Linked DNA regions of Homo sapiens. The protein of the gene in region 4 interacts with the protein of the main gene of each other region in a biochemical or structural test. Each region holds a gene or a part of one and is shown on either strand. Other genes may lie near its edges.

Region 1 (8,639 bases), on a different chromosome or scaffold from region 4:
ACTGTTGACTCGAGTGCTGTAGCATGACTGGGAAGGTAAACTGAATTTTAGAGAGTTTTTGGCTTTTTGACATGGGCTTTTTAGAACAAGGAGAAGATAAATTCTTGTTTGGTAGGCAGTGGGTGGCAGGGTAGGTAGCTGGGCATACGTGTTACAAATTGTATTTGAAAACCAGGGTTGTTTCCCTTTGCTCTTTTATTTTTTTTGGTGTGTGTAAAGGTTGTTTAAGCAATTGATCAATTATTCAGAAAGCAGTCGTTAACCCAGGATATTTTACGTGTAGAACAGCTAATCCTTACTTATAAAGAAAATCTGAAGTTGCCTTTGAGGATGATTTGAGGTTGTCACACTTCACTATGTTAATTTGTGAATTGGCATATATTTTAATATATTTCATTCTAATATATTTGTAATAATTCGGAATGAGCTGAACCATTCTTGGAAAGGCAACCAGTGATAGTTTTCTCTTGTAATAGTAACTGAGTGAACAGTCAGTACCTTGAATGGGGAGAGTTGAGTTGAAGTGGTATCTGAGGGTGGAGAGTACCAAAGACAGACTTAATGTTAGTCTCAGGAACACTTGAATGGTAAAGAACAGACTACAAAGAAACGGAAGATGAAGCCTTAGCCTTGTAAAAATTTGTGAGCCTTTTTAATATTAAAAGGAGAGATGAAGCTGAGCTTGATAGCTCACACCTGTGATTCCAGCACTTTGGGAGGTCAAGGCAGATCACGTGACCCCAAGAGTTCGTCCCTACGAAAAATAGAAAAATTAACCAGGCGTGGTGGTCCCTGCTACTTGGGTGGGAGGATCACCTGAGCTTCGGAGGTCTAGGCTGTATTGAGCCATTATTGCATCACTGCACTCCAGCTTGTATGACAGTGAGACAGTGTCTTAAGGAAAGATGAGTTGTTTTGTTCCACATTTTCTAATTTATGTGTCTGTGTGATTTTCTAAACTTCGTAGTTTGTATTAGCTGGGCATGGTGGTGCCCGCCTGTAGTGACAGTTACTCTCGAGGCTGAGGCAGGAGAATCGCTTGAACCGGGAGGTAGAGGTTTCAGTGAGCCAAGGTGACACCACTGCACTCCAGCCTGAGCGAGAAAGCGAAACTATGTCTCAAAAATAAAAAAAATAAACTTTGTAGTTTGTTTTACCCGGATACAAAGTTGTCATTAACATTTTTACTTTTGTTTTTCAGATATTAACCTGGCTGCAGAGCCAAAAGTGAACCGAGGAAAAGCAGGTGTGAAACGATCTGCAGCGGAGATGTACGGGTCAGTAACAGAACACCCTTCTCCGTCCCCTCTACTCAGGTCCGGAACTTTATTATTTATAACTGCATTGTGTCCATCAGTGGGCATCTTCTCTTTCTGTTTTCTGGGTGTGGGGAGGTTTAAGTGTACTGTGTTTTATCTGTGTATAAATAAGGTTTTATTATTTTTGTGTTAATATGTCTCTTTTTTGCCCTAGAGAAAATTTCTAGAGAATTAAAAATCCCTGAGGTTTTTGCTATTGATATTAAAGAGTAGTTTGATATTTATAGCATAACCTGAAATACTTATACAGGATCGTTGAGCTTCTAAGACACTAGAGAGTAAGAGAGGGTAGAAGTGTGGTATAAGAATGCTTAGTTTACCATTCTGTTTTTCAGTGTTTAGTTTAGCTATGTCGTATGTGGAAATCTTAGCGAATTTTAACCTGAATTTCCAATTTGACCGCTACATTTCCAGTGGTCTAAGGTGATTGGAATTGAGTGATTTATTGTATGAATGATTGGGGATCATTCAGTGCTAATCTTGTTGATCTATTTGTTGTGGTTTATTTGGCATGGTTCTCCCCTCACCTGACATTGTGAATTAGTAGAAACATTTCCAAATTAACCCTTTTCGGTATTTATTTTTCAGCTCCTCTTTTGACTTGGACTATGACTTTCAACGGGACTATTATGATAGGTATGTTAAAATGTTTTGTATTTCTGCTAAACAGCTATTTAGTGAGAACCATTTCGTTCTTCTGGTTTGTGGTGATGAACATCAAAGATGTTTTCAAACATACTCCCCTAACTCCAAAACAAAAAAACACCTTTTTCTAAATCATTAAGTAGATTATTAGGTAGGGTGATACTGATTTTAATGCATTATTTCATAATCCCTGGCTAACGTGGTGAAACCCGTTTCTACTAAAAATACAAAAAAATTCGCTGAGTGTGGTGACTAGGGACTGGGTTATGGGTGGCTTTGGGTAACAGATTTAGAACTGTTGATAGCAAATGCTTAACAGGAAATAGGATGATGTGCTTAAGAGTGTTACCACATTGACATTCTGATAACATCAGTCTCAGTTAACATGAAGGAAATGTTAAGACTTATTTGGCTTGTCGCGTTCAAACTCATGCAGTATATGTAAGTATATGGAGCAAACTATTGTATGCAATAGACTTTAAACATGCAATATATAAAGCATATTACTTTATATACTATTTGTCTTATAATGCCAGTATTCCAGTCATTAGTATTTTAATGTTATTACTGTATATAACAATTCAGTCTGATTTTGGAATAAAAATTACTGATTGGGGAATGCTTAACATTTGAACTGAGTTAATCAGTCATGCATGGGAGTTGTAAAGGAATCAAGTCAGCCGTTAAATACCATAAAGTATACACTGAAAGTGTCAGACATGAAAGTATAGACTTTCTGTTTGAGAAATAACCTCACAGAATATGGTACGTAGTCATTAGAAGGCCAGAAGAGTAAGGCCCGAAAAGGAATTCAAATCCAGATTGTAAAGGGCCTTGAATGCCATAATAAAATGGTGTGGTTGAGCATCATTAATGCATCATCAAAATGTTTTTTTCATTTGACATTAGCGGTTTCCTCAGATTTTTTTTTTTTTTTTTTTGAGACAGTCTCGCTCTGTCGCCCATCCTGGAGTGCAGTGGCGCAATCTTGGCTCACTGCAAGCTGCGCCTCCTGGCACAGCCTCCTGAGTAGCTGGGACTACAGGCGCCCGCCACCACACCCGGCTAATTTTTTGTATTTTTAGTAGAGACGGGGCTTCATCGTGTTAGCCAGGATGATCTCGATCTCCTGACCTCATGATCCGTCCGTCTTGGCCTCCCAAAGTGCTGGGATTACAGGCGTGAGCCACCACGCCTGGCCTGATTTTTTTTTTTTTTTTTTTTAAATACGGAATTTTCCTCTCGTCACCAGGCTGGAGTGAAGTGGCGTGATTTTGGCTCACTGCAACATACGCCTCTTTGGTTGAAGCAATTCTCCTGCCTCAGCCTCCCAAGTAGCTGGGGTTACAGGCATGCACCACCACTCCCGGCTAATTTTTGTATTTTTAGTAGAGGCTGGGTTTCACCATGTTGGCCAGGCTGGTCTCGAACTCCTGAACTGAGGTGATCTACTCGCCTTGACCTCCCAAAGTGCTGGGATTACAGGTGTGAGCCACTGTGTCCAGCCCTTTCCTCAGATTTTTACAGTTATGTGTGAACATTTTGAAAACTAAGGAGTTCTGTAATTCTTCATTTTTATTTTTGTTGAAATTTTTGAAATTCTTAAAAAATAAAAATCAGCTGGGCACGGTGGCTCACACCTGTAATCTCAGCACTTTGTGAGGCCAAGGCAGGTGGATCATGAGGTCAGGAGTTCAAGACCAGCCTGGGCAATATGGTGGAACCCCGTCTCTACTAAAAAAATACAAAAATTAGCTGGGCGTGGTGGCACGCGCCTGTAGTCCCAGCTACTCAGGAGGATGATGTAGGAGAATTGCTTGATCCCGGGAGGTGGAGGTTTCAGTGAGTTGAGATCGCGCCACTGCACTCCAGCCTGGGTGACAGAGTGAGACTCCTTCTCAAAAAATAAAACAAAATAAAAATCAATGGAGAACTTCCAGTTGAAAATAAATCAGGACATTACTAGTGAACTCAGCCCATTTATTCCTGAAATTGCAATTTTTTGAATTTTTGCAATCAGACCTTGGTAATGACCTAATGCAGTAGGATATAAATAACTCCGACAAGCTTAGCATTCCAGTAATGGAACATTAGGCATAGATGGGTTAATTATTGGTCAGGTGTCTTGAAGGCACTGAAACCCAGTGAGTTTGTCTGAAGCATCTGCCCTTTAACCCTTTCTGCACATGGTAATTGCTTGACCACATTTAAAATATACTCATGCCAGCTTCTCCTATAGGGATTCTTACACAACTGGTCTTATGCAGACTTTCTTAAGTACTAGTATATTTTTCAGTGCTTTCTATGTGTTCTTTTGTCCAGTCAGAGTTGAGAATCATTAATAAAAGATTAAGGACGTGGTTGTGTTTCTGTGTATTATTATCCTATTTCTTTGTCATGGCTCAATTCAGACCAGTTTAATAAACTCACACTTTTGTTGGTATAATTTCAGGGATGTCATGGACTCTTAGTTGATGTTTTTTATGAGTGTATCAAGTTTTAGCAGTATACAGTGACAGTCTTCTTGAAAATAGTTCTCATTAAAAAGTCTTTTCTTGGCAAGGCACATTGTGAATGGGGAAATTTGAAAATTTGAGCAGGGAATTTGGAAAACATTAGTTGAGACAATGAGATATATACTGCAGAGAAATCTAAAGAAATCACGTTTGCAGAAATATCTTCACAGAAATTGGTGGCCTCTTCAGATTTTCAATAGACAACAATATATTAGGTTTGAGCAAAAGTAATTCCGTTTTTGACATTTCTTTGAACGGTAAAAAGCAAAACCGCAATTATTTTTGCACCAGCCGATACTAGTAGTTACTGTCGGATATATTGCTGCATGTTATTGTCAGTGAAAAGTAATGTCTTCTATTGTTCTAACGTCAGCCAGTAGATAATGATTACTGATAACTAGTGGAGCAACTAGGTAATAGCTGGCAAAGAGCTGACTTTTAGAGTACTGAGATCTTTGTTGGGAAAATGAATTTTAGGAGGTGTCCACATGATGGGAACTTACTCAAGTTGGGTTGGAGAATTGAGGAATTGAGTGTGTGTCTTACATGATAGATGTTAATGAAGGTGAAAGGAGGAGGAGTGTTTGTTTAGTGGGGAGAGGGGCAGATACAGGAGTTTTTTGCTGGTTTGGAAAATGTTAGGTCAATTTGGACCTGGGAAATAGGTTGGGTATGACCTGGTGGAATAACAACTTAGAAAAATGGTATTAATATCTTCTAAGAAGTCATTCTGAAGATTCATTATCATAAGGTTTAGATTTTTATTTTAAATGGTAACAGCGATACTTCATTGACTATGTTAAATTGTTTAATCAAAGAAGATGGGAAATTGGCTCTGAGTGAAAGCTCTGGGTCTTCATATGTAAATCGGAGTAAAAATCACTGTCCCCCCCCCCCCTTTTTTTTTTTTTTTTTGAGATGGAGTCTTTTCTGGCACTCAGGCTGGAGTGCAGTGGGTTGGTCTTGGCTTACTGCAACCTCTGCCTCCTGGGTTCAGGCGACTCTCCTGCTTCAGTCTCCCAGGTAGCTGGGATTACAGGTGTGCACCACCACACACAACTAATTTTTGTATTTTCAGTAGAGACAGTGTTTGTCCACGTTGGCCAGGCCGGTTTTGACCTCTTGACCTCAGGTGGTCCACCCGCCTGGGCTCAAGGGATCTCCCTGCCTTGGCCACGCAAAGTGCTGAGATGACATGTGTGAACCACTACGCCTGGCCCTCTTTTTAATATTCATTTGAAGGCGCTGGTTTTGTTTTGCGAAAGGTGTTGTAATAAAAGTGAATTTTTATCACAATGTTGGGAATGCACAAGTATTCAAAGCTGTAGTTGTTGAATTAAGCGAGATTGGGAAGTACTCTAAAAATAGATCTTTAAGTCCTTAGGTAGGCTGGCATATACATGAAATTGATGTTCGTCAACAGCTACCCTGGTACTATTCTTTCTTTCTTTTTTTTTTTTTTTTTTCTTTTGGAAACGAGTCTCGTGCTGTCTCCCGGGCTGGAGTGCAGTGGTGCAGATCTCGGTTCACTGCAACCTCCGCCTCCCAGGTTCTCGAGATTCTCCTGCCTCAGCCTCCTGAGTAGCTAGGATTACAGGTGCACACCACCACACCCAGCTGATTTTTTGTATTTTTAGTAGACATGGGGTTTCAGTATGTTGGCCAGACTGGTCTCAAACTCCTCACCTGACTTCATGATCCATCCACCTTGGCCTCCCAAAGTGCTGGGATTACAGGTATGAGCCACTGCACCTGGCCCAACCTGGCACTATTCTTATAATTCTTTAAAAAATTCTCATAAAAGTCTTGATCTATATGTGTTTTCTGATTTGTGCCACAAATACTGCAGTGTTTTCATACTAAAACTATATCTAGATATAAACTAGATATATTTTCTTCAGATTGTAATAAATTGGAACCCCACTTTCCCTTATAATTGATCACCCATGAAATTGTTCTCAAATTAGATAATGGTGATATTGCAGAACTAATAAAAACCACGGAGTGGCACCCTTTTAAATGGTGAATTTTATGGTATGTGAATGACGTTTTGATTGAAAATGGATGCGACATTACAATTGAAAAAGGATACATCACTGTCTTATGGACAGTCATTCTTTTTTGTCATATCTCGTGGACCCTACCTACATCAGGATACTTGCCAGTTAGAGACATAGATGAAACCCGTCTGGTGCTACCAGCCTCAAAAGGTAACTCTTACGCCTGAGGATGGACACCTTTTAGAATTAAAAGAACTCTCAGTCATTGTGGGACATCTTGCTAGCCTTCATAGAGACTGATTTACTGTCAGCTCTTTTCTTGAGTCGTCTCATCTCTCTCTGTTTTTTTTTTTCCTTTTTTTGAGACAGAGTCTTGCTCTATTGCCCAGGCTGGAGTGCAGTGGCTCGATCTCGGCTCACTGCAACCTCCACCTCCCAGGTTCAAGTAATTCTTGTGCATCATCGGCCTCCCAATTAGCTGGGGTTACAGGTGCCTGCCACCATGCGTGGCTAATTTTTTTTTTTTTGTATTGTTAGTAGAGACGGGGTTTCACCATGTTGGCCAGACTGGTCTCAAACTCCTGACCTCAGGTGATCTGCCCACCTCGCCCTCCCAAAGTGCTGGGATTACAGATGTGAGCCATCGTTCCTGGCCTCTTTAATTCTTATTTGGAGAACTTTGGGCAACACGAAATAGAAACTGCCAATAAATGGCAGGTTTGATAACAGGCTTTATTATGACAGCGGAGACTTGGTGAGCAAGAAACCTGGTTCAAAAAGACTGGTTTAGTTCAATGGTCTTTCTGAGGACTTTTTAAACTTAGCACATTTTGTATGTGGTGCATGACTAGTAATACAGTATATAAGTAACGAGTATGAAATTCTTAGAGGTTTTCAGAGTGCTGTTATTACTCCATGGCTAAATATATTAATATGTCAGTGCATTAGAAATAGACAAATCTTCAAGAACTCACAGGTCAAAGATGACACATGTAACAAAGATTGAGTTGTGAGGGGCCTTGATGTGTTTGAGGAGCAGCCAGCTGTAAAGTAAATTGTAAAGAATGTTAGTTGTAAAGGGCTTTGTATTACATGTTCTGGGATTGTGTCCTATAGATGGTATTTTAGAAACAGGCCTGTGGCTAGAGGAAAAAAGATGTGTTAAATGGTAAACATTGTAAATGTTGGAATGGAGAGGAGGTTGGGAGAATTTCTGAAGTAGATTGGTCTTGATGTGATTGGTTGGACTAAAGGTATGAAAGTAGGTGCTTGTAGGAAAATAATAGTCAAAAGCTGAGATTTTGTCTTCGTGACTAGATGATAGATTATGCCATTAATGGTTACATGAAGGGGGGTTTCACAGAGTTTGTGCTGTCAGAATTTCAAGGAGACAAGCAATTTTGCTGCTGGTTTTATTCTACCTGACTTTTCTAGGAATGTATCTTGGTAGAGAGAGAAAATTAGTTGAAATGAAACCATTGAAATTCAAGACAGAACTGTCAAACCATCATTTCTTCAACTATTAATAGTTAATATCCCTAATTTTGTTCTGGGCACACAAAGCCTGAGGCTTTGGATTAACAATATGGGTTGAAGGAGAACCTTCACCTTACTGAGTTTAGATTAGCAGACACTTTGACCTCCTTTTCTATTTTTCAGATGTTTTTGAGTAACACTGTACCTGAGAGATGGGTTTGTTTATATATATGTATGAAGGGAGAGAGTGCCAAAATACTTAGGTTATTTGAAGTTTGAAAACTGGGGACATTCTGCATTGAAAGGCATGTGTTTCACAGAGCAGGAGACTTCTAGGCTACTTTGAAAAGCTAACAGATGACTCTCAGAGGTGTCATTTTAGGTGGAGAGGGTACTCTGGGCTTGGAAGTTTTGGATTTGCTCACAGCTCCACTGTTAATTATATCTTTCTTTTGGGAACCTGTGTATCATACATATAGGTGCCAGAAGGATTTTAGATGGTGACATAGATTAGTATACACTTTTGGAACAAATCAGTTATTAGTCTTTTTTGTTTGTTTTTTGTTTTTTGAGACCTGATGTGGCTCTCTTGCCCAGGCTCGAGTGCAGTGGCGCATCACTGCTCACGGCAACCTCTGTCTCCTGGGTTCAAGCAATTCTCCTGCCTCAGCCTCCTGAGTAGC
Region 2 (8,639 bases), on a different chromosome or scaffold from region 4:
TCCATTGTCCAAAGCTGCAATCCTGTAAAGCAAAACAGGTATCAGCTTGAACCCGGGAGGCAGAGGCTGCAGTGAGCCAGGTTCACGCCACTGCACTCCAGCTTGGGAGACAAGCACGAAACTCAGTTCTCAAAAAAGAGAAAAAAGAAAAAGTTATCTAACCCCAGTAATTCTCAAAGCAATAGACCAATTTTGTCTTGTAATGCAGGAGAATTCCTAACATCCCCCAACAAAACAAGAAAATTTCAGGTCCAGTTAGTTGTAATTTGGACTATTTCTGTAAAGTTAAAATAGAGGTCAATTCATTACCTTTCGGGAGACTTTGAGTGGCTCCTGTGTCTGTGACTACGGTGATGACCTGGGGAAGAAAAGGCCATTGCATAAGATCCTACCCTTCTACTCTTATTAAACTGTCATTCTCACCTCCCCTAATACCTGCCATTGGCTTAATATTCTTTTGGCCTATGCAGGGGACACCTCTTAGTGGAAGCAACTCTGAATTAGTGGAGGAAGAGGGAGCAAAGAAAGTAGTAATGAAACCAGTTCAAATACATATACATTCAAGGGCTTTATGACTAATTTCACAAACATCATATTGGGTTTTCACTATTATGTTAGATCTTATTCCTCCAATTTTAGATGAAAAAACTAAAGCAAACCTTATCAGCAAAGCTTATAAGTGACAGTCAAGCTGTGAACCTTAATTTTCAAATTCTATGTCCATTTGCTTTTCTGTTAGGCAGTACAGTCAGGCACTCCTGTACTGCAGGAGGCTAACTACTCCTTTTACATTTCTTTGTTAAGACAACCTGTGGCAAAAGGCCCACAAGCTTTACCTGGGGACTTGGAACGGGATCTGTGCCGCCGATCTCGGGACCTGCTGCGGTGACGTCTTGGACTCTTGCTCCGATGCCTTTCTCGGCGAGGGGAGGGGCTGTAGAAAAGACTGGTCAGACTACCAGATCTGGTTAGCAATATACATATAACACCAATACCACCACCCCCTCCCCAAAGCCCTATCCTTCATCACAAATGACTGAAGGCCTACCTTCTCCTTTTGGGAGATCGACTCCGCCTATAAAGAGGAGAGGAAGAAGAAAGCCTAGGTTGGCGCACTGGATGTGGTAGATTGCAAAAACGGCCCCAATCTTATCCTTCACGCTTCTCTGTATCACCCACCTCTGTATCCATGTCTTTTGTCACGTAACTCTAGCACCCTCCCATTCTAACTTTAGGACTGGTGACATGACTCGCTTTGGCTAATGAGATATTTGCAAATGTGATAAAAGCAGATACTGGAAAAACATTTGCATGACCGGGTTTGTTTGCTCTTGAGTTCTGCCACTACCATGAGAATATGCCCAACTTAGCCTGCTAGAGGATGACACAGAGAAGAGAAATTTCCCCCGTCATCCAAGCTAAGGCAATTCCATACCAGCCAGTAGACAGCCGACAACAGAACAGGTACTTTAAAAACTGCCTATCCAAGCTCTGCTTAAATCATTGACTGCAGACTTGTGAAAGGAACAAATGGTTATTGTTGTCTGCCAATGAGGTTTTATAGGTGGTTGTTTTGCAGCAACAGATAACTAATATATTGGGCAAACATTCTCCATAGACGTGCATTTTTCCTTCTCTAAAATCCAAACTTCTAGGCTACAGTGCTCAAAATCTTCTGGGAAAAGGCCAATGACTAGGCTTTACCTTCTGGGAGACCGGCTCCTACTCCTCCTGTAGCGCAGTGTGGGAGAGCGACGGGGCTTGTCCAAGTCTCGGTAGCTTCTCCGGCGGTGATCAGGTGATGGCACTCTTTCCAACTGGAAACAAGATGATTGGGTCATTGAAAGGCACAGGCTTATAAAGAGCCATCTAGGAACACTAATTATACTTCACGCCCCATCTTGTCCCAAAGTCCATCTCCATGTGACTTTAAAGCACAGTAACCTGACTACAAAGAGGGAAGCACTTACCCTATTAACTAACAAAACTTATTATGAGCTATATAAGACAGCCAAAATGACTCATAGGAGAGGGAACAGAAACAGACCTGTGTGTGTGTATGTGTGTATGTTTAGTTTATCTGCAGCCTGGGCAACATGGTGAAATCCCATCTCTACAAAAAAAATACACAAATTAGCCAGGTATGCTGGCACGTGCCTGTAGTTCCAGCTACTTGGGAGGCTGAGATGGGAAGACTGCTTGAGCCTGGGAGGCCGAGAATGCAGTGAGCCACTGCACCTCAGCCTGGGCAACAGAGCAAGACCCTATCTCAAAAAAAAAAAAAGTTTGCTTCCTGGAACAACTGGGCAGCTTGGTTGTTTTCAACTTTTCAGCACCGTAACTAGTACTGAAAGAACATGACTATGCGGTTGACATTTTCCCCCTCCTAAACAAGGTTTATTCCTTAGGATAGGTGCAATTATGAAAGTGTTCTTTCTTTCCAAGTATTTAATAGCTGCCACCATTTATTAGGCAATTATAATGTGCCAATACTCTGCTAAGGGCTTTAAGTTTATAATCTTATTTAATACTTTTAACAGTCTTGGGGAAAAAAGTATCATTAACCTCACTTTACATAGGAGAAAACTAAATTTAAGTAATTTGCGTAAGATTATACTACTAGTATATGGCAGAGCTGAGGTGCTTTTAATAAGGAAATATTGTTTTTGGCTAGAGTTAGAAAAAAAATTTTTTTTGAGACGGAGTCTCACTTTTGCCCAAGCTGGAGTGCAGTGTTGCGATCTTGGCTCACTGCAACCTCTGCCTCCCGGGTTCAAGCAATTCTGCTGCCTCAGCCTCCTGGGTAGCTAGGATTACAGGCACCCACCACAACGCTGGCTAATTTTTGTATTTTTAGTAGAGACGAGGTTTCACCACCACGTTGGCCAGGCTGGTCTTGAACTCCTGACCGCTGGTCATCCACTCGCCTTGGCCTCCCAAAGTGCTATGATTACAGGCTTGAGCGACCACGCCCGGCCAATAGAGTTAAAAATTAAAGTCTAAAAACAAAAAACCATTCCCATTTTCTATTACTCCCTCCCCTACAACCATAAAAGTCTCAGGTGCCAGACCTTCTCATCCTCCTCTTCTTCCTCTTCACTGGACTCCACATCATCCATGTCCTCTTCCAGAGCACTAACTCGAGGCTCCAGTTGCTCAGCTTCCTCTAATACATAGCGTTTCTACAGAGAAAATGATGAGAGTTAGGGGTTGTTGCCATTTCCCCTATTTCTTGAAACCTCAACACTGGGCTTCAGGGTTCCAAGGAGCAACAGCTGAGGCAATTTCATTTCAAAGACAGTTCAAGATTTTCCTAACAAGTTTAATAGACCTGAAATCTATAAAGTTCTCCTATAAACATAAATACAAACCTGAAGAGAACATCTTCATTTTCTATTGACTCTATTCCCTGTACCTTATACTCTAAAGTCATGGGAATATCAATCAGTATAGGTACAGCCTAGAACCAAAAGTAAGGGCTTCACACACAGAGAAAATCCAAGGGCTAATAAGTTCATGGCTGGTAGTTCCACTAGAAGAGGCCTAGCCCTAGAGTAGTACCAAATCTCCAGTAGACCCAGGATCTCGGGAGCTGTTGATATTCATGCATTTTGAACTGGTTCCATTTTAATCTGGGATATGGCTTAGCAATGTTTATTTGAGTGGCTAAGGATCAGAGAGGCAAAGCTGATTTCAAAAATGCCAAATGGCTAAATGTAGTGGCATGTACCCGTGGTCCCAGCTCCTTGGGAGACTGAGGTAGGAAGATCCCTTGAGCCCAGGAGTTTAAGAACAGCCTGGGCAACACAGCAAGACATTGTCTTGCTATAAGAATTGGGCCCTCAAAGTAGGTTTTCAAATTTATAATCTCATTCTTTCCACTACATGCCCTACAGTGCCAACATGGAACAGGAGAGCTGTATCACACTCATTTCCTGAAAAGATGCCTCATGGATAATCGTTTATCACTAGGAAAGGGAAGCAGGATGGTGAAGGCAAGTTTAAGGAATTAATGGCTCAGTCTCCCACTCCTGGCCCTATTTTTATCTGTTTTATGTCCTGGCTTTTTACATGAAGATTAGTTTAAAAAAAACGTTCATGAAGTTAAAAACTCCCTACCTACTCTAGCTACAATACCCTTGATGTAACATCCTGAATAAATTTCTTTTTTCATGATAGACAGGTAATGTGCTGACTTTGTAACAAGGTTTGAGGGAGGCACAACTCACACATGCACCTGAACTACAAAAGGATGGAGAAAAACAAAGTTTCCTTGTTTTAAACCATTCACTTTTAAAGCCCTACCCTTCAAATATTTTATCTATTTTCCTCTCACTCCCAATCCACTATCTTGGGACTCCCAGACAGGAAGACTATTCATTAAGAGGACCCATAAGATCCACAGGCTTCAGTGTTTAAGCTGTGTGTATGTGTTTGTCTGTCTGCCCGTCTAGGAAGAGAAGGGTGACTCTGGTAACAGACTTTTATTTCTTACCTGTAGTCGGGGCAGAATGATATCACAGACTCTCTCACTGTGCAATAGTTCATCAATAAACTCATCAACATGCATCAATTCAAACTCTGCAAGAAAAAGTCATTAGAGCAAACAACCTGGAAATAAAAGATTTAGATGCCAAAAAGTAAAAGAAGTGTTAAGACTTCATATCAGGACATCTATGTGCTAGGCCTCTTTAGAAGAGATTAAGGGATGAATGAAGATGTCCCAATTAGCAGGAGACAAACACAAAAACAAGCACAAACAGTCCTGAATTATGTAGGGATGATCTTGAAGAGATCATATAACTTAAATATAATTTCTCATCTGAACCTTCAATGTTTCTGAATTTAGAACATGTATCTTATATGGCACATGGAGTGATAGCTTTTGAGAACTGGCTAGGAGTGGTGGCTCACGCCTGTAATCCCAGCACTTTGGGAGGCCAAGGCAGGCAGATCACTTGAGGTTAGGAGTTCAAGACAGGCCTGGCCAACATGGCGAAACCCCATCTCTACTAAAAACACAAAAATTAGCTGGGCATGGTGGTGGGCACATGTAATCCCAGCTACTCAAGAGGCTGAGGCAGGAGAATTATTTGAACCTGGGAGGCAGAGGTTGCAGTGACCTGAGACCACACCACTGCACTCCAGCCTGGGCAACAGAGTGAGACTCCATCTCAAAAAAAAAAAAATTATATGTCTATATATATGTGTGTGTGTGTGTATATATATATATACATCTATATATATATAAAAGTATCATTAACCTCACTTTACATAGGAGAAAACTAAATTTAAGTAATTTGCGTAAGATTATACTACTAGTATATGGCAGAGCTGAGGTGTTTTTAATAAGGAAATATTGTTTTTGGCTAGAGTTAGAAAAAAAATTTTTTTTTGAGACGGAGTCTCACTTTTGCCCAGGCTGGAGTGCAGTGGTGCAATCTTGGCTCACTGCAACCTCCGCCTCCCGGGTTCAAGCAATTCTGCTGCCTCAGCCTCCTGGGTAGCTGGGATTACAGGCAATTTATATTATATATAAATTATGTTATATATAAATTATGTTATATATAAATTATATATGATTATGTATATTTATATATTTGTATGTAAATATAATTATAAAATGTATATATATGTGTGTGTATATACACATATACAAATACATATATATACATACATACATATACATATATAGCTTTTGAGAACTTCCATGGTAAACATTACCTTACTTCTGGGGTTCTCAACCATGGGCAATTTTGCACATGCCCATCCCCCTACTTAGAAGGAGGTGTTACTTCCATCTAGTGGGTAGAGGCTAGAGATACTGCTACTCATTCTATGATGCACAAGCCAATCCTCACACAAAAGTTATATGACCCAAAATGTCAATAGGTTCAGAAATTCTTAGTTTTACGTAATAAAATAATAAATAAATAACTCCATCATGGCCATGACCATGTCCATCTTGTTCACCATGGTATTTACACCACATAGCACAGTATGTGACATGTCAATGGCACTTAATATGTATTTATTCAATGAATGAATCAATAAGTTTAAAGTATAATACCAAATTCTATTTTTTTAAGATGGAGTCTTGCTCTGTCGCCCAGGCTGGAATACAGCGGCGTGATCTCGGCTCACTACAATCTCCGCCTCCTGGTTCAAGGGATTCTCCTGCCTCAGCCTCCTGAGTAGCTGGGATTACAGGTGTGCACCTCCACACCCTGCTAATTACTGTAGTTTTAGTAGATATAGGGTTTCACCATACTGACGAGGCTGGTCTCAAACTCCTGACCTCAAGTGATCTGCCCATGTTGGCCTCCTAAAGTGCTGGGATTAGAGGTGTGAGACACCGTGCTTGGCCCCAAATTCTTAACCTTCTACTGTTTAATGATACATGTAGGGGGAAAGGTAAATGTTCCTATCTTCTGTTATGACACCAAGTGAGAAAAGGTTTTGACTGCATTACCTGGAATCCCTCCTTAGCACATTAAGTAATCTCCTTGTAGAAGGTATGGAGCTGCCTCTCTTGGATATACTTATTTTTCAGTGGGATTCCTGTATAAAAATGAGTAGTCTTATATGCTGCAGTGTGAATTACAGTGTTAGAGGAGAGGCCAGTAGAAAGAACTGTGAAGATGTAAAATATGGAAAACTAATTTTGTCTGAGAGGGCTGGGGAAGGTTTTTATGGAGAAGCCATTCTGCAGCTAGATCTTTTGGGATGGAGCACATGTAAAGGGGGCATATGATGCAAGGCAGGGATTAACATAAGATGCACTTGGAAAGGGAGACAGACAGAGGCAGGCTGGGTAAGGCCAACACGAAGCTAGTAGTCAGACTGAAAACTCCCATGAGGGACAAGGGAAAACCTGCATAGAGACAGTAACAATGTAGATGAAAAGGAGCATTCACACTGTCTATGACAATGCAAAGGTAGAAGTACTGGTAAAATAAAAACTGGCTTAAAAATGACAATCAGGAGACTTAGCACCATACTTACCCCCATTTCGGTTCTGGCTCTTGATTTTTCGATAGTCATTGTACAAAGGTTCCAAGTACTTGTAGCAATCAATTGCAGTGCCTGTCAGCCTCATGTAAAGTGCCCCCAGCATGCGGACATACCTGAGAGACAGATGACAGTGAAACAACAGGCCATCCTAGAAGTTCCTGAGTTTTACAACTAGCTGTTCTCATGACAGTAGTGGATAAACATGTTCTTCTCTTTGGCAGGTAAGAAAGCTGCAATTGTGGAGGTAGAATGCAGCAGAAGAAAGACAGCTAAAATATGGAGACCTGAGTTCAAGTTCCCATGCTACCATTTATGGCTGTGGGAACATCATACATATTGATCAACTTTCAAATATATCATCAGTAAAACTAGAATAAAACCTATTTACCTCACAGGATTACTCTAAGAATCAAAAGAAATACTGAATTTTATTTTATTTTTTAAGGCAGAGTCTTGCTCTGTTGCCCAGGCTGCAGTGCAGTGGCACGATCTTGGCTCACTGCAACCTCCGCCTCCTGGGATCAAGCAATTCTCATGCCTCAGCCTCCATGTAGCGAGGATTACAGGCGCCCGCCACCATGCCCAGCTAATTTTTGTATTTTTATTTATGTATTTATTTATTTCTTGAGACAGAATCTTGCTCTGTTGCCCAGGCTGGAGTGCAGTGGCACGATCTCAATTCACTGCAGCCTCCACCTCCTGGGTTCAAGCGATTCTCCTGCCTCAGCCTCCCAAGTAGCTGGGATTATAGGCATGTGCCAACACACCCAGCCTAATTTTTGTATTTTTAGTAGGGACCGGTTTTGCCATGTTGGCCAGGCTAGTCTCAAACTCCTGACCTCAGGTGATCTGCCTGCCTTGGCCTCCCAAAGTGCTGGGATTACAGGTGTTAGCAACCATGCCTGGCATATTTTTGTATTTTTAGTAGAGACGGGGTTTCCCCATGTTGGCCAGGCTGGTCTTGAACTCCTGACCTCAAGCAATCCACCTGCCTTGGCCTCCCAAAGTGCTGGGATTACAGGTGTGAGCCACCACACCTGGCCATATATTGAATTTTAAAACAGAAAGAAGATATATTTAATAACAATACAAGAACAAGTACACATAAACATGACTGCTGGTTTTGGAAAAAAGTAAGTCATCTGGGTTCAAATTCTGACTCCGTAATTTACTAAGTCTGTGACACTACTGGTCAAATCATGTGTTTTCTCAATCCTTGTAAAACGGAGATAATGCTACCTAATTTATGGCTTGGTATATAAACAAGAAATGCATTGAAAGTGCTAAGTATAGCACAGAGCACACAGTAAGTGCCTAACAAAAGTTAGGTATTTTCTAGCTGTTAATGCTTTATTAGAGTCGTTCCAGCCAGGGGCGGTGGCTCACGCCTCTAATCCCAGCACTTTGGGAGGCGAGGCAGGTGGGTCACCGGGTCAGGAGATCGGGACCATCCTGGCTAACGCGGTGAAATGCCGTCTCTAGTAAAAATACAAAAAATTAGCCGGGTGTAGTGGTGGGCGCCTGTAGTCCCAGCTACTTGGGAGGCTGAGGCAGGAGAATGGCATGAACCCAGGAGGCCGAGCTTGCAGTGAGCCGAGACTGCGCCACTGCACTCCAGCCTGGGC
Region 3 (8,639 bases), on a different chromosome or scaffold from region 4:
TCAGAAATGTTAGCTGGGTGTAGTGACGTGTTCCTATAGTCCTACCTGCTTTGGAGGCTGAGGTGGAAGGATGGTTTGAACCTGAGAGGTCAACGCTAAAGTGAGCCGTGATCGTGCCACTGTATTCTAGCCTGGGTGACAGAGCAAGATCCTCTCGGGAAAAAAAAAAAAGGTATATTTCTTTAGTGTTCACATGTTGAAAATGTAATGAATGTGTCTTTGTAATTCACCAAAAGTGTAATTAACCTTTACTCCCATGTTGTCTGGCCATGTGATGTTTTGAAAAGTTTTCAAAACAACATATATGGGCTCATTTCAAAGCTGTTTTTAATATACCACATGAGACCAGTTCTGATTGTATGTAGTTTTCCTGTCTTACAGTTGTCCAGTATAAGAGTGACATTTTTCTAGGTCAAATGTCTTGAGTTAGAGTCCCTGTGTGACCCTGGGCAAGTTATTTCACCTTCTTTTTTTCATCTATAAACTGGGCTGACGATGGCTGCCTCAGATTTGTGAGGATGAAGTGCAGGTCTTTGGAGCCAGACCACAAGGGTCCTTGGATCCTGACTCCATTGCTTACTTAGTGGTTTGGTAGCTGTGCTTCACTTTCATCATCCATGCAATGGAGACCCGACGAGCTCCTCTGCGGCTGTGTTTTTTGAGATGGAGTTTCGCTCTTGTTGCCCAGGTTGGAGTGCAATGGCACGATCTCAGCTCACTGCAACCTCCGCCTCCCGAGTTCAAGTGATTCTCCTGCCTCAGCCTCCTGAGTAGTTGGGATTACAGGCATGCACCACCACGCCTGGGTAATTTTGTATTTTTAGTAGAGATGGGGTTTCTCCTTGTTGGTCAGGCTGATCTCAAACTCCTGACCTCAGGTGATCCACCCACCTCAGCCTCCCAAAGTGCTAGGATTACAGGCGTGAGCCACCGCGCCCGGCCCCTCTGCGGCTCTTTGGAGGTGTTTAGCGCACGTGCCTAGTGCAGCACAAGGGCACCTGTCTGCTGTGACAGTTCTGACTGACATCATGGGCTTTTCTCAGGCTCAGTGACCACCGGCCTGTGTCAGTGCTGCTGGGCCGGGAGAGCTGGTAACAGCACCAGGCAGTCCGTGTGTGGAGGGACAGCCTCCTCAGTGGAGATGACGTGTGCTGATATTGTCCAGTTTTGCCATACTGTTAGGACACAAGTCTTTGTGCTGGTGCTGTCTGTGCTCAGGGGCTTTTAGGGTTTATGTTTCATAACGCTACTCAGAGATAGAGAGAGATTGGGTGACTTTCTAGTAAGTGGTAGGTTGTGATTAGGACTTAATTTTTGGAATCGAATGTCTTTTTTTTATCATTTAGATCTGCTCTTTTAAGAAACAGGCTAAAGTTGAGAAACACTTTGAAGGGAGAGGGCAGTAGAACAGAAAGCCACCTTTTAAAGAACTTGGCAGCTCTTGGTTGGCTTGTTCTCTGTTGTGAAGTTTACCATTTATAGTTGTTGTTTTCTGTTTGAGCCAGTCTTGCTCTGTCGCCCAGGCTGGAGTGCAGTGGCGTGATCTTGGCTCACTGCAACCTCCGCCTCCCAGGTTCAAGCGATTCTCCTGCCTCAGCCTCCCTTGTAGCTGGGATTCACCTCGTAAGGCGAATTAACCTTAGCATATGATAGTTCTTTTAGTGTTTCCCACCACCCTTTTCAGAGTAAGCAATTAGACGTCTAGAGTTTCTTTTCCTCTATCTCTTTGGGTAAATAGCAACCAGTGGTGCCCGCCACCACGCCTGGCTAATTTTTTGTATTTTTAGTAGAGATGGGGTTTCACCATACTGGCCAGGCTGGTCTCAGACTCCCAAAGTGTTGGGATTACAGGCGTGAGCCACCGTGCTGGGCCTACCATTTAGTGTTCTTTTTTTTTTTTTGAGACGGAGTGTTGCCCTGTCACCCAGGCTGGAGTGCAGTGGCACACAGTCTCTGCTCACTGCAAGCTCTACCTCCCGGGTTCATGCCATTGTCCTGCCTCAGCCTCCCGGGTACCTGGGACTATAGGCGCCCGCCACCACGCCCGGCTAATTTTTTGTATTTTTAGTAGAGACGGGGTTTCACTGTGTTAGCCAGGGTGGTCTCGATCTCCTGACCCCGTGATCCGCCCACCTCAGCCTCCCAAAGTGCTGGGATTACAGGCGTGAGCCACCACGCCCGGCCACCATTTAGTTTTTAGGTTATCAGACATCTGAGTCCATAGCCAATTTGGATTCTGCTTAAGGTGCAGGTAATTGCTTTGATGGGTTTAGGTATTGGGAGAGTTGTCAGCTGCCTATTTCCCATTTGACCCCTCGAGTGAATCCCTGAATCTGTCTCAGGTTGGTGATTGATTGCTCAGCTTGAGCAGACAGTACAGGGCCACTGTGTGGGTGAACCTGGAGCATCTCAGACTGGTCTGTTAGGGGCTGTTGTCTGAGGTAAGCACAGAAGAGAAGGCACAGTGACCCTTGTCAGCTCCTTAATACTTGGATCCTGATGAGCTCCAGCCAGCTCTTCACCTTTCCAGAAAGTCCAGTGTACAGGTGCATAGAAGCAGTCAAATGCCGGATCATTTGTTTTCCTGATTCTTTGATTTGAACATACTGAAATGTTGACTAGAGAATATCTGGGTGACCAACAAGAAGCAGTTTATGTATTTTTTTGAGAGGGAGTCTCGCTCTTGTTGCCCAGGCTGGAGTGCAATGGCGCGATCTCAGTTCACTGCAACCTCTGCTTCCCAGGTTCAAGCAGTTCTCCTGCCTCAGCCTCCGAAGTAGCTGGGATTACAGGCATGCACCACCACTCGTGGCTAATTTTGTATTTTTAGTAGAGATGGGGTTTCTCCATGTTGGTCAAGCTGGTCTCGAACTCCTGACCTCAAGTGATCCACCCGCCTTGGCCTCCCAAAGTGCTGGGATTACAGGCGTGAGCTACCACGCCTGGCCAAGAGGCAGTTTTTGAATTCCAAAATTATGGAGTGATATCTGGGAGTCAGCCTTCATCAGTGATGCTGCTTGTGCTTTCTCCAGCTTCTTGGGAGACTGGGCACCAGGAGACTTGGAGGTTCTTCCCTATCTTACCTACTCCCAAGTATGCATGTTTTTGAAAAAAATATTTAAGATTTCTAGAGAAGATCACAATCTTCTCCAGTGTCTGTGTAATCCATTGTGGAGCAGTTTATTACAGCTGACCTACTGTCTCCTGTCTGTTTTAGGAGCGGTGACTTAGGTTATCACCCCTTAGTGTTTTCCTGTCATCTGCCTTCTCATCTCCACCTAAAATTTAGTTTTTGGTAAAAGATCATGCTATCTAACCTTGTCATCATTGCAAAACAAACTTATTTATGTTTATCATGATGCTGACATTAGCAAGCTGACTCATGGTTTAATGTTAGTGTTTCTTACTACTGGTCACTGGCTGACAGTCGGAAAAGTGATGCCCTATTTTTTTTTTTTTTTTTTGAGATGGAATCTTGCTCTGTTGCCCAGGCTGGAGTGCAGTGGTGCCATCTCGGCTCACTGCAACCTCTTCCTCCCAGGTTCAAGCGATTCTTCTGCCTCAGTCTCCTGAGTAGCTGGAACTACAGGTGCATGCTACCACGCCCAGCTAATTTTTATGTTTTTAGTAGAGATGGGGCTTCACTGTATTGGGAAGGCTGGTCTTGAACCTCTGACCTCATGGATCCTCCCGCCTCGGCCTCCCAAAGTGCAGGGATTACAGGTGTGAGCCACTGGGCCCTGCCTTTTTTTGTTTTTGTTTTTGTTTTTGATACGGAGTCTTGCTCTGTTGCCTAGGCTGGAGTGTGGTGGTCTGGTCTCAGTTCACTACAACTTCTGCCTCCGAGGCTCAAGCGATTCTCCTGCCTCAGCCACCTGAGTAGCTGGGATTACAGGCACCCGCTATCATGCCCAGCTAATTTTTGTATTTTTATTAGAGACCATGTTGGCTAGACTGGTCTTGAACTCCTGACCTCATGATCCGCCCACCTTGGCCTCACAAAGTGCTGGGATTACAGGTGTGAGCCACTGCGTCCGGTCCTGTCTCTGTTTTTATCTGAAATTATGTTAGCCTTTGCCTAGTTATGGTGAATTAACCTTAGCATATGATAGTTCTCTTAATGTTTCCCACCACCCTTTTCAGAGTAAGCAATTTGACGTCTACAGCTTCTTTTCCTTTATCTCTTTGGGTAAATAGCAACCAATTTTTCCTGCTACTTTAGATAGTAGGCAATAACAAAATGTATTCATAGCTCTCAGTAATATTTGTTCTATTGTTTTGTTTTTGAGGTGAAAGGGGGGACCCTACCCTCAGAACATGAGGGAATAATATTTACGTGGCTCACAAAGACCAGTGAGTACATCATATGCATCTCTCACAACTCCCCAGAAGAGGGCCTCCAGCACGAGTCTAGGCTCAGCCTTTTCTGTCCCTCCGAGAACTCTATGAATTGCTGCCAAGTGTTTTAATTTTCCTCAGAATTTCTTTGTAATGTTATTGAGGGTTGGAGGTCCTTTTACAAATTTTGGAAATAAGTAAATCAAATGAGAAGACCATGCTTCCAAACAATCATTCTGTTTAACAGATCCCCTTGATTTAATGCAATTATGAATGCGTTAGTGGTAGTGTAGTTTAAGATCTTTCCCTTGAATGTACAGGCTTTAAAGAAACGAACCTAGGAGTGTATTTCCTATCAAGCAAATGGGTTCTAAGACTTTACGCTTTACACATCATTGATTATAGCGCTGTGCTTTTCCCGTGCTAGGCAATGGATCACTTGGAGTCCTTTATTGCTGAATGTGATCGGAGAACTGAGCTCGCCAAGAAGCGGCTGGCAGAAACACAGGAGGAAATCAGTGCGGAAGTTTCTGCAAAGGTATGCTTGGGTGGCTTCGGTGTCTGGTGTGTTCTTAAAAATACTGGCTTGTCAATAGCTTTTTTTTTTGAGATGGAGTCTCCCTCTGTCACCCAGGCTGGAGTGCAGTGGCATGATCTCAGCTCAGTGCAAGCTCCGCCTCCCGGGTTCATGCCATTCTCCTGCCTCAGCCTCCCGAGTAGCTGGGACTGCAGACGCCCGCCACCATGCCCGGCTAATTTTTTGTATTTTTAGTAGAGACGGGGTTTCACCGTGTTAGCCGGTATGGTCTTGATCTCCTGACCTCGTGATCTGCCTGCCTCAGCCTCCCAAAGTGCTGGGATTACAGGCGTGAGCCACCGCGCCCGGCGTTGTCAATAGCTATTAACTGACCCTCAGCACTGATTGTGTGGACAGTACTCTCTGCCTTACTCCAGTTAAGGATAGAGGGCTGTGATCAAGCATTCATGTGTCATGGAATTCTCATCCCTCAGGAGCTGCTACCTCTGTCTTTTTATTCTCTCCATTTTCGTCCTCTGTACATGGTTTATCATTATTTTTTAATTTTAATATATTCTTCGCTGAGTTTGGTGGCTTATGCTTGTAGTCCCAGCACTTTGGGACACCAAGGTGGGGGCAGACTGCTTGAGCCCAGGAGTTTTAGACCTGAGCAACATGAAGAAACCCCATCTCTACAAAAAATACATATATTAGCCAGGCTTGGTGGTGCACATGTGTATCCCAGTTACTCAGGAGGCTGAGGTGGGAGGATCACTTGAGCTTGGGGAGATTGAGGCTTCAATGAGCTGTGATCATGCTACTTTGCTTCAGCCTGGATAACAGAGTGAGACCCTGCCTCAAAAGAAAAAAAAATTATTGTCGGTTTTTTTTTTTTTTTAAGAGACAGAGTCTTGTTCTGTCGCCCAGGCTGGAGGGCAGTGGCGTGATCTCGACTCACTGCAAGCTCCGCCTCCTGGGTTTACGCCATTCTCCTGCCTCAGCCTCCTGAGTAGCTGGGACTACAGGTGCCCACCACCACGCCCAGCTAATTTTTTGTATTTTTAGTAGAGACGGGGTTTCACTGTGTTAGCCAGGATGGTCTCGATCTCTTGACCTCGTGATCTGCCCGCCTCGTTTTCCCAAAGTACTGGGATTACAGGCATGAGCCACTGCACCCAGCCATCTTTTTTTTTTTTTTTTTTTTTTTTAATAAAGATGGAGTCTGTTGCCCAAGCTGGTCTGGAACTCTTGGGCTTAAGCAATCCTCCCGCCTTGTCCTCCCGAAGTGCTGGGATTACAGGTGTGAGCCAGCATGCCCAGCCTCTGCATGTTGTTTTAAACTTTAATATCTCCACATAAAACTGGAAAGAATTGGTAAGGAAATGGTCAAACTGTGGTACATCCATATCATAGAATGAAAAGGAGGTAGATTTATATGTAATTAGACTGAGTGCCATTTACATCACTCTTCTGTTTTTCTCTTCAGTGGAACTAAGCCTCTCCTTGTTTTTTCTTTTCAGTGTTGTAAAAGCATTTCTTAGGATTTATGCAATTGCTAATTTGACCAACGGTGCTATTTTGTTTCAGAAGGTAAATCCTAGTAATTAGGTATTTTGGTTACAGCTTAAATCTGTACATTTAAACCTAGGCATTTTATTACCATACCCAGAAGAAAAAGTCATAAAGAGAGACAGCCTAGACAATGACCAATCTGTGATGATCCTTGGAAGCATGTCGGAAGTGACAAAGGTGCCACTGGTTTCATTGGAACATAGGACTCGTTTATGGTTACAGTCTCAATGCTGGCAGTAAGGATGCCTTCATTGTTAAGTGTGGATCTTTAGCTCTTCCACTTATTTTCAGACTGGAAATGGAGCAGGAGAAACCCTTGTTGCCTTTGCATTCACTTTCATTTTCAGATGTCTGCTTACCTCATTCTTTCTCCTCACAGGCAGAAAAAGTACATGAGTTAAATGAAGAAATAGGAAAACTCCTTGCTAAAGCCGAACAGCTAGGGGCTGAAGGTAATGTGGATGAATCCCAGAAGATTCTTATGGAAGTGGAAAAAGTTCGTGCGAAGAAAAAAGAAGCTGAGGTTGGTGAGATAAGTGCCTTAGGGCAAGAGAAATCTTAGTAATTTGGCAGCGTTGACCGTTGGAATTAATTGAGCCCATGCTTGCTCCCATTTTTTAAAAAATTTATACATTTTGGGCCCAGCACAGTGGCTCACGCCTGTCATCCCAGCACTTTGGAAGGCCGAGGCGGGCGGATCACGAGGTCAGGAGATAAGACCATCCTGGCTAACACAGCGAATCCCCGTCTCTACTAAAAATACAAAAAAATTAGCCGGGCATGGCGCCAGGCACCTGTAGTCCCAGCTGCTCCGGAGGCTGAGGAAGGAGAATGGCGTGAACCCGGGAGGCGGAGCTTGCAGTGAGCTGAGATTGCGCCACTGCACTCCAGCCTGGGCGACAGAGCGAGACTCTGTCTCAAAAAAATTTATAAACGCTGTTTTTGCAAGCAGTTTTAGCTTCATAGCTAAATTGAGAGGAAAGTACAGAGATTCTCCATGTACCCTCTCCTCAGACAGCCTCCTCCATTCCTAGCATCTGCCCACAGTCAGTGGGTCTACGTTGACTTGTCATTATCACCCAAAGTCTGCAGAAAATGTTAGGTATGTCATGAATACATAAAATATATGAGGATACTAGTCTTTTATTTACTGCCATAAAATATACACAAGTCTATTATGAAAAGGTAACATTTGTCAAAACTTAAGCATATGGCCAGCTATGGTGGCTCTTGGCTTTAGTCTCAGCTGTTCGGGAGGCTGAGATGAGAGGATCCCTTAATCCTAGGACTTTTGGAGTCCAGCCTGGATAACATAGCAAGACCCTGTCTCTAAAAAAGAAGAGGCTACATGCAAACGCTTACAGACCATACATGACAGCATTCGCCGTAGAGAGATGTTAACAAACGTAGTGCAGAGGTGCAGTATTAAATCAGGGCTGCCTAAGAATAACTGTAATAGGTACTGTACTACTGTAATAATTCATGCCACTTCCTGTTGCCATTGTGTGGAGCTCAAGGGTCGTGAGTATCCCCTTGAAACACCACGTGACACTCATCATCTCCGAAGGAGCAGTTCACCTCTCCAGTACATTCCTACTGCAGTAAAAAGTGAACTCACAGGGTTCCTAGGCGTTTTTCATCGTGTTTAGTGCAATACCATAAACTTTGAGTAATGCCATAGGATCCATATGCCACTAGTGATGCTGAAAATGCTCCCAAGAAGGCAAGAACAGCCATGATATTACAAGAAAAAGTTGAGTTGCTTGATGTATACATTAGATTGAGGTCTGCAGCTGCAGTTGCTACCATTTCAGACGGACAATTCATCTTGTAAATGAGCAGTGTAAACGTACAGAAGTGATCAGTACAGCACAGTACTATAAATGTATTTTATTTTCTCTTCCTTATAATTTTCTCTCTTTTTTTTTTTTTTGAGATGGAGTCTCGCTCTGTCCCCCAGGCTGGAGTGCAGTGGTGCGATCTCAGTTCACTGCAAGCTCCGCTTCCTCGGTTCACACCATTCTCCTGCCTCAGCCTCCAGAGTAGCTGAGACTACAGGCGCCCACCACCACGCCCGGCTAATTTTTTTGTACTTTCAGTAGAGATGGGGTTTCACTGTGTTAGCCAGGATGGTCTCAATCTGACCTCGTGGTCCACCCGCCTCGGTCTCCCAAACTGCTGGGATTACAGGAGTGAGCCACCATGCTCGGCC
Region 4 (5,687 bases):
GGTGATCTTCCTGCCTTGGCCTCCCAGAGTGCTGGAATTACAGTCATGAGCCACCGTGCCCGGCCGATGACATTTCTTTAACTTGTTAGGGTGCTACTTTTATAGTAAGAGCAAATGGTGAAAATGTGTTTTTAAAATATGCTTTCCCCTCTTATTCTTAATTATCATTCTAAGTGATGGAGGTGGCTACATTTCTTGGGCATCATCTGCAGGGCTGGAGCTGGCTCATGGACTCGAGACCCTCACTCATTCAGTGAGCCCACTCTTGTTGTGTCTCCTAGCAATAGATACAGAGTTGGGGGCTTGGGCTTTGTGTTTAAGTAACCTTATCAACTATTTCCAGGGCAAGGTTACTTCTTATACTGAGCTTAAGGGTTTGCACACATAATCATTATAGCATCTGGGTGAGTTGATTTTCCTTTGCATTATATTATAAACTTTTTCCACAAAAAAAGTCCACACATTTTTTTTTTTTTTAGAGGCGGTTCAGTGTTTTGTTATATTGCAGTGCTGCTCTGTGCTCAGGACCATAGGTGTTTAGGACTCTCCTGCATATACTGTTGTTTATAGACTGCTTCTTTGCACAGTCTTTACCTTGTTAAAAGTAGTTAGATATTTTACTGCTCCTTGCGAATATTTTTACCAGTTTATAGTATGCCTAGTTATGGATGAATAGTTTCTCATGGCCTTTCACTATTATATTGTTTTGCTCACTGTTACTATGCAGCTGTTAAGCATTTATAGTGGTAAAACTTCTCTTTTCATGGAAGATTGTACTTAAAAGATGCCTTGTTGATGGATCTTAGTTTAACACCTGGCGCCTCAGAAATAGGTTCCTTTACTATTCTCAGCACACAGTGCTTCTCTGTAGTTACCTATATTTGCAAACCTGGAGAGTATTTTTTCTGAGATAGAATAGATTCATGTCATAAAAGTTCGCTCCCTTTCCCAGAGAACTTGGTTTAGTCACATGTGAGCTTTCTTAGTTTGCTTTAACTGTTGCTGTGGTGAGATCAACAGTCTAAATCAATATAGTCATATTACAGAAAATGTGGAAATTGAAATAACCTACTAACAAAAGCTGATGTTTTGATTCAGTTGATTTCCATCTTAATGAGCATTTTAATAATCTTGTGATTATCTGTAGGACATAGTTTGACTGTTCTTTTACTGCCTAATGTTGTACCATGATCTTCTCCCATGTTGTTAAGTAATATTAAATACTATTAAGTGAATCTACCTTGGTTTTCTTTTAACCACCATTTTACTATTACTGGCTCTTCGTAATTTTGCGAGTACATATAATTTTGTGCCAGCATATATTAGGCATGAATTTGGGGTGGTGCAACCAGGGTTTATCTCCTTGGGCTGGATTCCTAGAGCCGGAATTTCAGGCTTAGAGGGATAAACCTGCAGTCTCTGTTCAGACTTTGTTTTTATGGAGACTGTGTTTCCTTCAACAGGAGATCCTTTCCCGCCTCTAATATTACAGGTTCATTTCTTCATCAACACAGACCTGATGTCTAGTCTGGATGCGATGCTTTACTCTAGCTCCAGTCCTCATATTGGAAACAGAAGCTTATTTTACATCTCAGCCCCTTTAGCAAGCAGCCCTCTTAAAAGATTCTTTATACGGAACCCTGTGCACAGCATGATTGCAACTTTGTAGACATACTAGTGTGTAAGAACACTCTTCACAATAGACACAAAAGAAGAGCAGTTGTGGGTAGGATTGTAGGCTACTTCCCCTTTTGTTCTTATACTTTTCTGTAATGCTCTTTCCTTTTCATTGTGTTTTTAAACGGGAGGGCTTTTCCAAGTTGACTCGAATAAATGGGTGAAACAGAACAAGCCTCCTGAGAACACCTTTGTGAGCAGAGCACTGATTATCTATTGATGCATCTCATGAAAAAAATGTACCTTGTTTAAATTAAAGCAGTTGAAAGGGGAGAGAAGTCAGTCCTTGCATGAAGTGTGCCCTGCAGGTGCTTGAATGCCTCTCTCCCCCCACCGAGACCTGGCTGCTCTGAGGTGTGGGCACAGGGGGGTGTTTCCTCTGCAGAAGCTGCTCAGGATGCACTGAGGGGCACCTAAGGAGGTCTGTGGGCAGGGGTGGGATGTCCTATGAAAACTTCAAACAGGCAGAGAAAACGAGTTATTCACAGTGAAATTATCTGGAGCTTTTGACAGTTTATTGCCTTTTTGAAAAGGTTATGGGGAGACAGGGTTTCGCTTGCTCTGTCCCAGGATGGAGTGCAGTGGCATGACCTTGACTCACTGCAGCCTTGACCTCCTGGACTCAAGCAATGCTCCTGCCTCAGCCTCCTGAGTAGCTGGGATGTACCACCGTGCCCAGCTACTTTTTTTCTTTTTAAGTAGAGACAGGGTCTGGTCTATGTTACCCAGGCTGGTCTGAAACTCATGGGCTCAAGGGATCCTCCTGCCTCAGCCTCCCAAACGGCTAGGATTGCAGGAGTGAGCCACTGCCCTCAGCCCTTTATTGCAGTTTTGACTTAAAAATAACCTTTTTTTTCTCTTATGAAATGACCATTACAGCTCGTAGGCCATTTACTAGCTTGTTAGTCATTCTGTTATGTCAACCAAAGCTGCCTGTAACCGACACTTTTCATACTGCAGCTAGCACAGTTTGTGAAGTATAACTTCAAGGTTTACAAATTAATGTCCTAGGATCTTAGATCTTACAACAAATGCGTAGACATGAATGGTGTTTGATTTGGGTTGGCCTCAAGTTTGCAAATTTTACGGAAGATCCCAGGTTGAAATGAGAGTGGCTTGCTTCAACCTTTGGAAAAGAAAACACTCTGGGCAAACTGAGCCCACTCCACTTACTTAAAGAAGCTTAGAACTAATGTGAATGAACTATTAATTAACCTCTATTTAGATCCACCAGGCTTACTTGAAATATGCCTTGGTCATATGTACATGTAATGATTATTGCTTAGTGGGGAAAAGCTGGTGTTCTTTGTTGTTGCTGTACAAGTGTTGAGCAGGTGGTTGTCCGCTTCACTGAAAAGAACCTGACTGGACCAACAATGGGGAATGCAGATTTGGAGCTTTCTTGACATTGGCCTGTTTTTTCCCCTGTAGGAGAACTGCGACACATCACCAAGCTGAAGCCCTGGAGCCTCTTTGATGTACTTGTGGAAAAGTATGGCTGGCCCCATGAAGATGCTGCACAGTTTACAGATTTCCTGATCCCGATGTTAGAAATGGTTCCAGAAAAACGAGCCTCAGCTGGCGAATGCCTTCGGCATCCTTGGTTGAATTCTTAGCAAATTCTACCAATATTGCATTCTGAGCTAGCAAATGTTCCCAGTACATTGGACCTAAACGGTGACTCTCATTCTTTAACAGGATTACAAGTGAGCTGGCTTCATCCTCAGACCTTTATTTTGCTTTGAGGTACTGTTGTTTGACATTTTGCTTTTTGTGCACTGTGATCCTGGGGAAGGGTAGTCTTTTGTCTTCAGCTAAGTAGTTTACTGACCATTTTCTTCTGGAAACAATAACATGTCTCTAAGCATTGTTTCTTGTGTTGTGTGACATTCAAATGTCATTTTTTTGAATGAAAAATACTTTCCCCTTTGTGTTTTGGCAGGTTTTGTAACTATTTATGAAGAAATATTTTAGCTGAGTACTATATAATTTACAATCTTAAGAAATTATCAAGTTGGAACCAAGAAATAGCAAGGAAATGTACAATTTTATCTTCTGGCAAAGGGACATCATTCCTGTATTATAGTGTATGTAAATGCACCCTGTAAATGTTACTTTCCATTAAATATGGGAGGGGGACTCAAATTTCAGAAAAGCTACCAAGTCTTGAGTGCTTTGTAGCCTATGTTGCATGTAGCGGACTTTAACTGCTCCAAGGAGTTGTGCAAACTTTTCATTCCATAACAGTCTTTTCACATTGGATTTTAAACAAAGTGGCTCTGGGTTATAAGATGTCATTCTCTATATGGCACTTTAAAGGAAGAAAAGATATGTTTCTCATTCTAAAATATGCATTATAATTTAGCAGTCCCATTTGTGATTTTGCATATTTTTAAAAGTACTTTTAAAGAAGAGCAATTTCCCTTTAAAAATGTGATGGCTCAGTACCATGTCATGTTGCCTCCTCTGGGCGCTGTAAGTTAAGCTCTACATAGATTAAATTGGAGAAACGTGTTAATTGTGTGGAATGAAAAAATACATATATTTTTGGAAAAGCATGATCATGCTTGTCTAGAACACAAGGTATGGTATATACAATTTGCAGTGCAGTGGGCAGAATACTTCTCACAGCTCAAAGATAACAGTGATCACATTCATTCCATAGGTAGCTTTACGTGTGGCTACAACAAATTTTACTAGCTTTTTCATTGTCTTTCCATGAAACGAAGTTGAGAAAATGATTTTCCCTTTGCAGGTTGCACACAGTTTTGTTTATGCATTTCCTTAAAATTAATTGTAGACTCCAGGATACAAACCATAGTAGGCAATACAATTTTAGAATGTAATATATAGAGGTATATTTAGCCTCTTTTAGAAGTCAGTGGATTGAATGTCTTTTTATTTTAAATTTTACATTCATTAAGGTGCCTCGTTTTTGACTTTGTCCATTAACATTTATCCATATGCCTTTGCAATAACTAGATTGTGAAAAGCTAACAAGTGTTGTAACAATAATCCATTGTTTGAGGTGCTTGCAGTTGTCTTAAAAATTAAAGTGTTTTGGTTTTTTTTTTTCCAGACATTGCCTTGGTCATTGCCCTATAAATGATAGAATCAATGAACATTTGCTATCAGAGTAGTGTCACTAAAACTAAATACCAGCATTCCTGTTGCAGCAGATGTAGTTGTAGAACATGCATTGAGGCGTATTATAAGGAAATCATTTATTGTTTTTTAAGGGCAGAAGGGATTTAGGAGAAAAGCTACAGTATAGATTGATTCTCTAGAATATCAATGATCCCTTTTCATCCATGGTTCATCAAAAACATACTAACTGCATTTGTTTGATCATTGCAAATTTAAAACAAAACAGCATTTGCTGTTAGGAAACAAGACACATAATCCTCTTAGGAATTACCATTATATCACATTACCACTGTGAGGTAGAATGGATCATTCATTAATTTCTTTATGAAATTTGCATGCTAAGTTTTTCTAATGAGGCTGTAGGTTTCCATGTAAATTCTGTGATAGATAGTGGCTGTAGACTGGTGATGCTATCCGTGATTTCTATGAGAAACATCCTTACAAGAACCATAGGGCATAATTTATATCTTCCCTAAGTGTAAAAGGATTTTTATCAGGGTGATAGTATACTTGAATGAAATTTGTCTAATGCAGTTTTTGCTTATGTTGGAAAATAAACTAGATTATGAATTTTTACAGGTGTGTCCCTTATGATAAAACAGCCTAACTAGTTTATAATACAGAAACGGTTGTTCTAGAAGGAATATACATTTGTATTAGGCATAATATGGCTTTATCAGATTCTTGGCGGCTTGTTGATAAAGAATGCACAAAAACTAAATGAGAACCACTGGTTATGCTAAACATTATAACTAGCTCTCTGACTTCAATTGAATGTCCTATCTATCTTTTCCTTTCTGTAGTCCATGTGAAATCTTCATGGAAAATGACAAGCAGTGGATCACATATGTGTTTATAGCAGA

Evidence for each region.
Region 1: of the proteins of SRPK2 (region 4) and HNRNPC, one has a biochemical effect on the other in vitro, tested with the Homo sapiens proteins (2 studies listed by BioGRID and IntAct).
Region 2: of the proteins of SRPK2 (region 4) and PRPF38A, one has a biochemical effect on the other in vitro, tested with the Homo sapiens proteins (2 studies listed by BioGRID and IntAct).
Region 3: of the proteins of SRPK2 (region 4) and LUC7L, one has a biochemical effect on the other in vitro, tested with the Homo sapiens proteins (2 studies listed by BioGRID and IntAct).

What each region holds. Positions count from the first base shown.
Region 1 is NC_000014.9:21,223,635-21,232,273, reverse strand, and holds part of HNRNPC (heterogeneous nuclear ribonucleoproteins C1/C2), read left to right. Parts: intron 1-1,201; coding exon 1,202-1,277; coding exon of another isoform or gene 1,278-1,316; intron 1,317-1,907; coding exon 1,908-1,955; intron 1,956-8,639. UniProt on the Homo sapiens protein: Binds pre-mRNA and nucleates the assembly of 40S hnRNP particles. Interacts with poly-U tracts in the 3'-UTR or 5'-UTR of mRNA and modulates the stability and the level of translation of bound mRNA molecules. Single HNRNPC tetramers bind 230-240 nucleotides.
Region 2 is NC_000001.11:52,407,057-52,415,695, reverse strand, and holds part of PRPF38A (pre-mRNA-splicing factor 38A), read right to left. Parts: intron 7,128-8,639; coding exon 7,006-7,127; intron 6,211-7,005; exon of another isoform or gene 6,193-6,210; intron 4,582-6,192; coding exon 4,496-4,581; intron 4,255-4,495; exon of another isoform or gene 4,174-4,254; intron 3,183-4,173; coding exon 3,072-3,182; intron 1,818-3,071; coding exon 1,705-1,817; intron 1,076-1,704; coding exon 1,049-1,075; intron 935-1,048; coding exon 837-934; intron 359-836; coding exon 310-358; intron 1-309. UniProt on the Homo sapiens protein: Involved in pre-mRNA splicing as a component of the spliceosome.
Region 3 is NC_000016.10:204,315-212,953, reverse strand, and holds part of LUC7L (putative RNA-binding protein Luc7-like 1), read left to right. Parts: intron 1-4,289; exon of another isoform or gene 4,290-4,353; intron 4,354-4,765; coding exon 4,766-4,876; intron 4,877-6,806; coding exon 6,807-6,950; intron 6,951-8,639. UniProt on the Homo sapiens protein: May bind to RNA via its Arg/Ser-rich domain.
Region 4 is NC_000007.14:105,115,444-105,121,130, reverse strand, and holds the end of SRPK2 (SRSF protein kinase 2), read left to right. Parts: intron 1-3,108; coding exon 3,109-3,293; 3' UTR 3,294-4,757; downstream 4,758-5,687. UniProt on the Homo sapiens protein: Serine/arginine-rich protein-specific kinase which specifically phosphorylates its substrates at serine residues located in regions rich in arginine/serine dipeptides, known as RS domains and is involved in the phosphorylation of SR splicing factors and the regulation of splicing.